Linked DNA regions of Homo sapiens: region 1 is linked to region 2. The links come from fine-mapping of genetic effects on gene expression. A gene starts in region 2. The other region holds a variant in brackets. All regions are shown on one strand. Distances are from middle to middle. Region 1 overlaps STAB1 (stabilin 1). Region 2 holds the start of NT5DC2 (5'-nucleotidase domain containing 2).

Region 1 (4,374 bases), 28 kb before region 2:
CTGCCGGCCAGGCCTGGTCAGCATCAACAGCAACGCTTCTGCGGGCTGCTTCGCCTTCTGCTCCCCCTTCTCCTGCGACCGGTCTGCCACTTGCCAGGTGACCGCTGATGGGAAGACCAGGTGAGCACAGGTGCCTGGGAGCAGAGACAGTGGGTTGGGCAAGCGTGCCCTCTGCGGGAAGGCGTGGGGGGTGCGGTGGGGGGGGCCTCAGCCTCCGCCCTGACTGGCTCTCCCTGGGAGCCCAGCTGTGTGTGCAGGGAAAGCGAGGTGGGGGATGGGCGTGCCTGCTACGGACACCTGCTCCACGAGGTGCAGAAGGCCACGCAGACAGGCCGGGTGTTCCTGCAGCTGAGGGTCGCCGTGGCCATGATGGGTGCGTGACCCCACTGCTTGCCCACGACCCGACCCCTCACCCCCAGCACAGTTGGCAGGGAGGGAGGAGCTGCCTCTGCAGATTCCAGTTTCTCTGCCCAGGGCTGTGGGAACAAACAGGTGGCTGTGGGGGGTGCATGCAGGGGGTGGGAGCTGCTCTCCAACCTCAAGGCCCCCATCTACCCTAAATCTAGGGAGAATACCCCCACCCCAACTCCCCCACACCAGGTCTGATGCCCGAACATCTTCTGAGATCCCCAGAGTCTCCCCAGCTCCCTTCTGATGCTCCCTCACCCTGCCCCCCAGACCAGGGCTGCCGGGAAATCCTTACCACAGCGGGCCCTTTCACCGTGCTGGTGCCATCCGTCTCCTCCTTCTCCTCCAGGACCATGAATGTAAGCCCCTCCCCATGGTGGAGCTGGCCACTGGCCCTCACCTCCTCCCCTGGATGCATCCCCAGTCTTCAGGGCCACCTGGAAGGCATCAGGGCCTGGGATGCATCCTGTCCCCTCCATTGCTGGGTAGAGGTGGTGTGAAGAGGACTGGCCCCCCGGCTCACTTTGCTCCCCGCCTTGCGTCTGCAGGCATCCCTTGCCCAGCAGCTCTGTAGACAGCACATCATCGCAGGGCAGCACATCCTGGAGGACACAAGGACCCAACAAACACGAAGGTGGTGGACGCTGGCCGGGCAGGAGATCACCGTCACCTTTAACCAATTCACGGTGAGGGAGGAGCCTCAGCCTGGGGACAAGAGGAGTCACAGCCTGGCAAGGGTGTGCAGGTGGGAGGGAGCCTCCGGACAGGGGGCTGGCATATGGGATCTGGCCAGACCTCTTGTGTCTCACCAGAAATACTCCTACAAGTACAAAGACCAGCCCCAGCAGACGTTCAACATCTACAAGGCCAACAACATAGCAGCTAATGGCGTCTTCCACGTGGTCACTGGCCTGCGGTGGCAGGCCCCCTCTGGGACCCCTGGGGATCCCAAGGTGAGCCAGCATCCTCCCCTCCCCTCCCCTGTGCTGCTGGGTAATCTCAGACCCCTGCAGAGAGCAGTGAGTGGGCAGGAGCCATTCTACTCAGGGCTGGAGCGCAGCTTCTCCCCGCTGGGCTGAAGCAGCCTCACCCCTTCCCTGGGGCCCTCACACTCATCCCTCCTTACAGAGAACTATCGGACAGATCCTCGCCTCTACCGAGGCCTTCAGCCGCTTTGAAACCATCCTGGAGGTAAGCTCGGGGGAGGGGTCCTAGCCCATGTGGGCTTCTGGGCTTCTGAGCCAGGACTCATTATCCCAGATTCTGCCCCACAGTGACCTGGGGTTCTGAAGTAGCATGGCCTCTGCCCATGCCCCCGTCCTCAAGCCTGAGGTTCTGTGGTAGCATGGACCCATTGCCCATGTCTCCCCCTTACTCAGTGGGAGTTTCCTGCAGGCCAAAGGTGGCAGGGCCCAGGCAGGACTCAGAGGTGGAGGCTGGCCATGCAACCCCCTGAGCCTCCCTTGCACCACCACAGAACTGTGGGCTGCCCTCCATCCTGGACGGACCTGGGCCCTTCACAGTCTTTGCCCCAAGCAATGAGGCTGTGGACAGCTTGCGTGACGGCCGCCTGATCTACCTCTTCACAGCGGTAAGCTCAGCGGGAGAAGGGGCTGCGGGTATGGGGGCACCAGGACCTCCAC[G/A]CTCCCCCACAGTTCCTCCAGGAGCCAAACCCTCTCTCTCCCCTGCCAGGGTCTCTCTAAACTGCAGGAGTTGGTGCGGTACCACATCTACAACCACGGCCAGGTGCGAGGTCTTTTTCTGGGGGGCGGCCAGCTTGTACCCGGTGGGCCTGCCTGCAGGTTCTGGACTTCCCCAAGGCCCCATCTCTTCTCCATCTCCCTTCCCTTCTCATCTGTTCTGCTATAGCACAGAGCCTAGGGACCAAGGGGGTGGCTGTGAGCCTCCTGGGCAGGACTGGGCGTGGCCCCAAGGTATGGCCAGAGCCCAGCCTAAAGCCACACTGTCCCTTGCCCCAGCTGACCGTTGAGAAGCTCATCTCCAAGGGTCGGATCCTCACCATGGCGAACCAGGTCCTGGCTGTGAACATTTCTGAGGAGGTGAGGTGCACGGACACCTGGGCGGATGGTGGGGCTGGCGGTGACCAGCTGCCCACTTGGCCTCTCAGCCTTGTGTGCTCCGAGCCCCGTGGTGGGCAGGACACTGCTAGGCCATGGCGGGCTCATGGGGAAGGAAGCAGGCAGAGATCAAATTCCTCTGCTGGGGCCCAATGAGAGTTAAGGGGGAGGACTCCAAAAAGGAGCATGGAGCACACGGTAGGGCTGCCCCATGTGGCAGAAGCCATGTGGGTAAGGACCCGCAGCCTGGAGCAGTGTCGTTGGCCAGAGCTGAAGGAGAGGTGGCTGGTATGGCCAGCGGGGCCTTCAGCAGCTCACTGAGCTGCCTGTCTGCTCTAACTGGGCTGCAGGGGTGGAGGTGGGCAGCCCCACCGGGCCAAGGCCAGCCAGGCTGGGGGTTGGCTCAGTGGGTCTCTGCCGCAGGGGCGCATCCTGCTGGGACCCGAGGGGGTCCCGCTGCAGAGGGTAGACGTGATGGCCGCCAATGGTGTGATCCACATGCTGGACGGCATCCTGCTGCCCCCGACCATCCTGCCCATCCTGCCCAAGCACTGCAGCGAGGAGCAGCACAAGATTGTGGCGGTGAGCCTCGCCTGCACGGCCAGGGCCCTACTCACTAACCCCTGTCAGCGCTGGAGCGGCAATCCTCTTCCCAGGGAGAGGCGCTAAGTCAGGGCTGGGCTGACGCCGGCTCTGAGGCCCTGCTGGCAGACTCCCAAGGACCCACCTGTGCTTCCCCCACGCTCACCCTCACCAGGACTATGATTCCATCTTTGAGATTTGTTTTGTTTTTTGAGGTAGGGTCTTGCTCTGTCGCCTAGGCTGGAGTGCAGTGGCACAATCCCAACTCACTGTAGCCTCCGCATCCTGGGTTCAAGCGATTCTCCTGCCTCAGCCTCCCGAGTAGCTGGGATTACAGGTGTCCGCCAACATGCCTGGCTAATTTTTGTATTTTTAGTAGAGATGGGATTTCACCATGTTGGCCAGGCTGGTTTCAAACCTCTGACCTCAGGTGATCCGCCCACCTCGGCCTCCCAAAGTGCTGGGATTACAGGCATGAGCCACTGAGCCTGGCCTGAGATAACTCTTGCATCCTCCACCGCTCCATCCCCTTTCACTCACTCTGTGCCTGCCTCTGGCCTCTCTGCTGTTTTCCAGAGACTCTAGCTCTGCCCGGCTCGGGGCCTCTGCCCCTGCTCTCCTCTGCCTGGAATGCCAGTGCTGGGCTTCCTGTGGTTGGCTCTTCTCATCCCTTAATCCCCACTCAATGTTCCCTTCTCTGGGTTTGCCGAGTAAATAAACAATGACTAACCCCTCTCCCCATCCTGCCCCTGCCCTGCCCAGGGCTCCTGTGTGGACTGCCAAGCCCTGAACACCAGCACGTGTCCCCCCAACAGTGTGAAGCTGGTGAGCACACCTTGGCCCAGCTCTCAGGGCCTCCTGACTGCCTGTTGAGGTTTCTGCCCTGGGTCACAGGGGTGGGTGGGGGAAGCAGAGGCTGGGAGGCTAGATCACACCTGGAGGCTAAGTGCTTCGCAGCCCCACTGGACCAGGGTTAGAGTTCTGGACCCAGGGGGCAGAGGTCCCTTAACCAGGGCTGCCTAGCAAAGGGGCTGGCCCAGAACCCACACCCACTGACTGGCTTTGCATGGCCCACCCTAGGACATCTTCCCCAAGGAGTGTGTCTACATCCATGACCCAACGGGGCTCAATGTGCTAAAGAAGGGCTGTGCCAGCTACTGCAACCAAACCATCATGGTAAGCGTGGGCATGGGTGCCCACTCCCAGGTCACCTGGGCACCTGCTGTTCCTCGGGGGCCCCCAAGCTGGGGCTGAGTGGGCTCCCTCCCTCAGAGGATGCACTGCAGCCTGACGGTGGAAAAGGGGT
Region 2 (4,374 bases):
CCCAGAGGTGTGAAGCTGGCTCCTGCTGGTGCTCACCATGGGATCTTGGTGGGAATGACTTTGCTCCTTGTATGACAAGAGGAGCTTAGAGGGCTGTGAGGCTCCAAAGATGCAGGCAGGCCCAGGAGGACAATGTCCAGTAGATCCCCGTAGTCCTCCCTGAAACCTCCAAGGCAGGCTTCTCAGGATACTCTGAGGGTCTTCTCCGGGCCCAGAGCAAAGACTTCTTAAATAACGCTGGGCCGCCCCTCCACAGACACAAACTCAACCTGGGACCTCGAGGGTGGACAGATGCCCAAGGCTTCAAAATGACCATTCCTCAGGGGCCTTTACCATCCTGCCTTTACTGGTCAAGAAGTGATTCTCCGCCACCCCACAAAGCCGGAGTGAAAACCCCTGTCTAGCCAGTTAGAATCTTCCAGACAGGGCTACTTTGTTTTATCAGACAACAAAAGCCACGTCACCCCTGGGGGTTCCTCCGGAAGCTCTCCTGCCCTGCTTGGCCTGGTTCCAGTCATCACCCAACCCTGGGACAGAGAGGCCCCAGGACTGCGTTTCATGCTTGAGAGAGGGTGAGACTTGCTGGGGGACCACCCAACTGGTCAGTGATAGGGTCACGACCCAAACCATATCTGTCTGCTGCAGAAGCAGGGCCCCACTAGACCCACGGAGACAAGCAGGCAGATGTCCAGCACTCTCAGCTCTGGGGCCTCACTAGTGCGCCCCAGCCGGCCCCCTCCAAGAAGGGGCCTCAGCCTCCTCACGCCATTTCTCAGAGGGAGAGAGCAGGGACAGGGAGGTTAAGTGCCCTTTGCAGCCCTAGTCTGGGCTCCAGGGGGCGGGGGTGACTTGGCTTCTCCCAGCCTTCGCTGCCCGGGCTGAGAGGGGGCCGGACCTCCAGGGCGACATCGAGGTGTGTCTGGGAAGTCCAACCGGTGTCCCCTTTGGTCCGGCCGTCCCTAGGAGCCCGTTCCGCCCGGCGCCGCTCGCTGGCTTTGTCCACAGCACTCTCCCGCCCCAACTAAGGGTTGGCCGAGAACAAGGGGTTGGGGGCGTTTCCACCGCGGCTTCACGGCAGGCGGGACCCCGAAGGAAGTCGGCGGGGGCCCAGCACTCCGGCAGCCGCTCGAGGAGCCCCGAGCTCCTGCAGACCGAGCCGGGGAACAAACCTCCCGCCCGCCCCCGGGCGTCGGGGCGCCCCAGAGGCCCCCGGGATGAACGGCCGGAGCTTCTCGCGAAAAGCCGCCCGGCCCTTGCGCTCCGGGGCCCTGGCGAGCCCCACTGGGTGTTTCCCCGGAGGAGCGGCACCCTGGGGCTCGGTCCGTCCATCAGTCCACGCGGAAGACACCCCGGCGCACGTCCCGCCCCGGCTCACCCACCGTGCACCAGTCTCCGCATGTCCTGGTAGCGAGCCCATAGGTGCGCGCTGAGGTCGGCGCCGCTGGTGGGTGCCTGGGCGGGCGCGGAGCGCGGGACGCCGGGGCAGTGGGCGCCGGGACCCGGGGGGCCGCACCCAGGGCAGGAGGGCGAGGACGAGGCGGCTCGCGGCCCGCCGTGGCCTCCGCACAGCAGCCAGCGCCGAGCGGCCGCCCGCAGCCCCGCACCCGCCATGCCCACCGCGCGCCGCCCGCCGCCCGCGCTGCCCTCGGCCAGCCCGCCGCCCGCCGCCCGCCGCCCTCCGACTGCGCGCCCGCCACGGTGGCCTCGTGCTCCTCACGGCGGCCGGCCAATGGGTGCGGCGCGCGGAGCCCGGCCTGCCAATGGGCGCGCCCCTCGGCCCGGGGGGCGGGAGGCCCCGGACCCGGCGGGGCGGGGCGGGGCGGGGAGGGCTCCCCAGCCCCCTCCCCCAGCCAGTCTCCGGCGCGGTCCGGGAGGACTCTGCGCCCCCCTTCGGCCGTCACGCCGGCGATGGCGGCGCCTTTCCCTGGCCCCAGCCCTGGAAGTCAGCGGGCCTAAGAGCGGCCGTCCCTGAGAGGCTCCGGACGGCCGAGGCGCCGAGAGGAGACAGCCGGAGCGCGACGGGTACCCCCCGGGCCCCCGGGTCCTCTGCCGCCCTCTCCGCTCCCGGGTCCGCCCGCCCTACCCTGCGCCTCTGGATGCTTCTGACCCCAGATCCTCCGCTCCTCCCCCTAGTCCTGGTGCTCTCCTTTCCCGGGGTCCTGGTCCCCGGTCTCTGGGCTCGGACTGACTGCCCACTGACCAGAGCCCGGGCCAGTCCACTCACTGGTCTAACAAATAAAGAGCCCTTCCCGCGCTTCCCGGTGCCAGGCCCACGCTGGGGGAGGCCGAGGGGCCTGCAGGGCAGCCGACGTCCGCTAACCAGGTGACTGGGCCGTGCGCTGCAGGGTTGTGGGCCACGGTCACTGCGCCCGCTTGGTTCGGACCTCGGCAACTGGCCGCACTGACCCGTCAACTCCCGGTTTCCCGGCGCACGCCCCTCGTGAGATGCTGTGGTCTTTTCTAGCAACGTCGACAGGCTTTCCAACAAAATTCCTCTTTCCTGCGCAGAACCGCTCTCCACTCGCATTTCTTCTGCTCAGATCCGTATTCCGAGCCCGCACGCATACCAGGCTGTGCTCAGGGTCCGGAGGAGGCCGACCCAGTAGCCGTGGGCCCTGTCGGAGGGGAGCCAGCTGGGCGCGCGTTGTTTTCTGAGGTGGCCGCGCTGTCTTTCAGGGTGTGTGTACATTCGAAACTCCACTGAACCTTGATTGAAGACCTACAGTGTGGCAGTCCATGGCCTGGGGACTGGTAAGGATTGAGGCCGTAGGATGGGCTCGAGTGTGGCGGTGTCCCCAGGGCCCCAGTGAGCAAGTGGGTGTGCTGGGAACCTGGCCACAAGTGAACCTCCTCCAGGCGAGGGGATGCCCTGCAGCATCCAGCCGTCAAAACCTCCTGTAGAAACGGGAGCGAGCATCAAGCCTGTGTGTGTGCATGCTTGGGCGGAGTCTACCCGGAGGAGAAAGAGGCTTCCGGGCTGGCCCTCCAAAGCCGGTTGTACAGGCGGCAGCTCAGGCTGCTCACTGCGGGCCCTATGACCCTTTCTGGGGCCCTGCTTGCTCTCTCCAGTCTGCTTTTGTATATTTTGTGTCCATATCACCAAATCGTCTCATTGGTTCTAAGCTTTCATTTACCTTCCTTAGATTGTCTAATAGTTGTCTCCTTTCTCAAAGCTGTTCCTGCAGTTTTTACTTTAGTCCTAGGTAATGGGGTGACAGCCCCTTTCAGTTATCTTCAGCAAGCACAGCAGCATGAGAAGACGCAATTACAAGTGAAGTCTCTTAAGTCAGAGCCCTGCTTCTACCTGGCATAGTCTCTTAAACTGTCAGTTAAGAGACTACATATAAACAATACACGTTCAGACTCGGCGCGGTGGCTCACGCCTGTAATCACAGCACTTTGGGAGGCCAAGGCAGGAGGATCTCTTGAGCCCAGGAGTTTGAGACTAGCCTGGCCAATATAGTGGGACCCCCATCTCTACAAAAAATTAAAAAATTAGCCGGGCGTGGTGGTGCACGCCTGTAGTGGTGGGAGGATGGCTTGAGCCGGGGAGGAGGGGGTTGCAGTGAGCCGAGATTGCGCCACTGCACTTCAGCCTGGATGACAGAGCGAGGTCCTGTCTCAAGAAACAAACAAAAACCATGTTTGGGAATACATGTGAAGAGCGAGGGCTCTGCCAATCATTATCATCATAATGAATATTCTAACTAATATTAATCAGTTACTATGCTCCAGGGTTGTGTTCAGTGCATCATTCCTATTACCGCACTAAATTATCACAGCGTCAGAACAAGGCCTCCGTTTTACGGCTTAGGGAATTGAGGCACAGATGGGCTAAGGGAGCACCTGTAGAGCAGGGATGTGGTTTGGTAACAGAGTGCATGCTCTTTATACTGCTCTTCTGCGATTATTGTGAATAAAGCGCCTACAAGTGCCTGTGGAACTGTAAGTGCCCCATACAAGATAGCTTTTATTAATTTTAGGGTTCTCACGGGGCGCTTACTTAGATTTTTGCTGTGATAATTGATAAAGTTCAGCTTTCAACACTCCATATCAAATTCTGTTACTTTAGAAGTCTAGGCACCAATCACGTCTCCGAAATAAACGCAAGGCATTGCATAATTGCATTTTGGAATGTGGTGCTGTACATAGTCCATCAGAGAGGGTCATCACTTCTATCTGGGTATTAGGAATAAAAATGGCGGTGGCAGAGTAGGGGGCGCGGCTGCCAACTGCGAGCTCAGACCTGCACTGGGGAGGCAGGGGGCGGGGCCGGGCCGGCGCCACGTGGGCTGTCCTTCCCTTTTGGGCCGTCCCACCTCCAGAGCTGAGGCGCCTGCGCCAGCTCCTTCGAGGCCCTGCTCGGCTTCAGGG

Evidence for each region. PIP is the estimated chance that this variant, and not a neighbour inherited with it, causes the effect. A credible set is the group of variants that fine-mapping cannot tell apart.
Region 1: its variant is the best candidate, but not a certain one, in a credible set for the expression of NT5DC2 in pancreas (GTEx, PIP 0.60).

The regions. Positions count from the first base shown.
Region 1 is chr3:52,503,783-52,508,156 of GRCh38, forward strand. It overlaps STAB1 (stabilin 1), which reads left to right. Exons shown (of 69, transcript NM_015136.3): 9 at 1-120; 10 at 246-373; 11 at 679-767; 12 at 957-1,094; 13 at 1,221-1,361; 14 at 1,537-1,599; 15 at 1,886-1,999; 16 at 2,101-2,154; 17 at 2,388-2,468; 18 at 2,910-3,068; 19 at 3,831-3,893; 20 at 4,149-4,244. Among named protein-coding and RNA genes, the nearest start is that of STAB1, 11 kb to the left of the region's middle. RefSeq lists enhancers at 211-716, 717-1,222, 2,589-3,188, 3,189-3,790. The variant G/A (reference allele first, on the strand shown) is at 2,052.
Region 2 is chr3:52,532,127-52,536,500 of GRCh38, forward strand. It overlaps NT5DC2 (5'-nucleotidase domain containing 2), which reads right to left and starts at 1,731. Exons shown (of 14, transcript NM_001134231.2): 1 at 1,380-1,731. The coding sequence starts at 1,611. RefSeq lists an enhancer at 841-970 and silencers at 1,101-1,190, 1,221-1,570, 1,631-2,130, 4,165-4,374.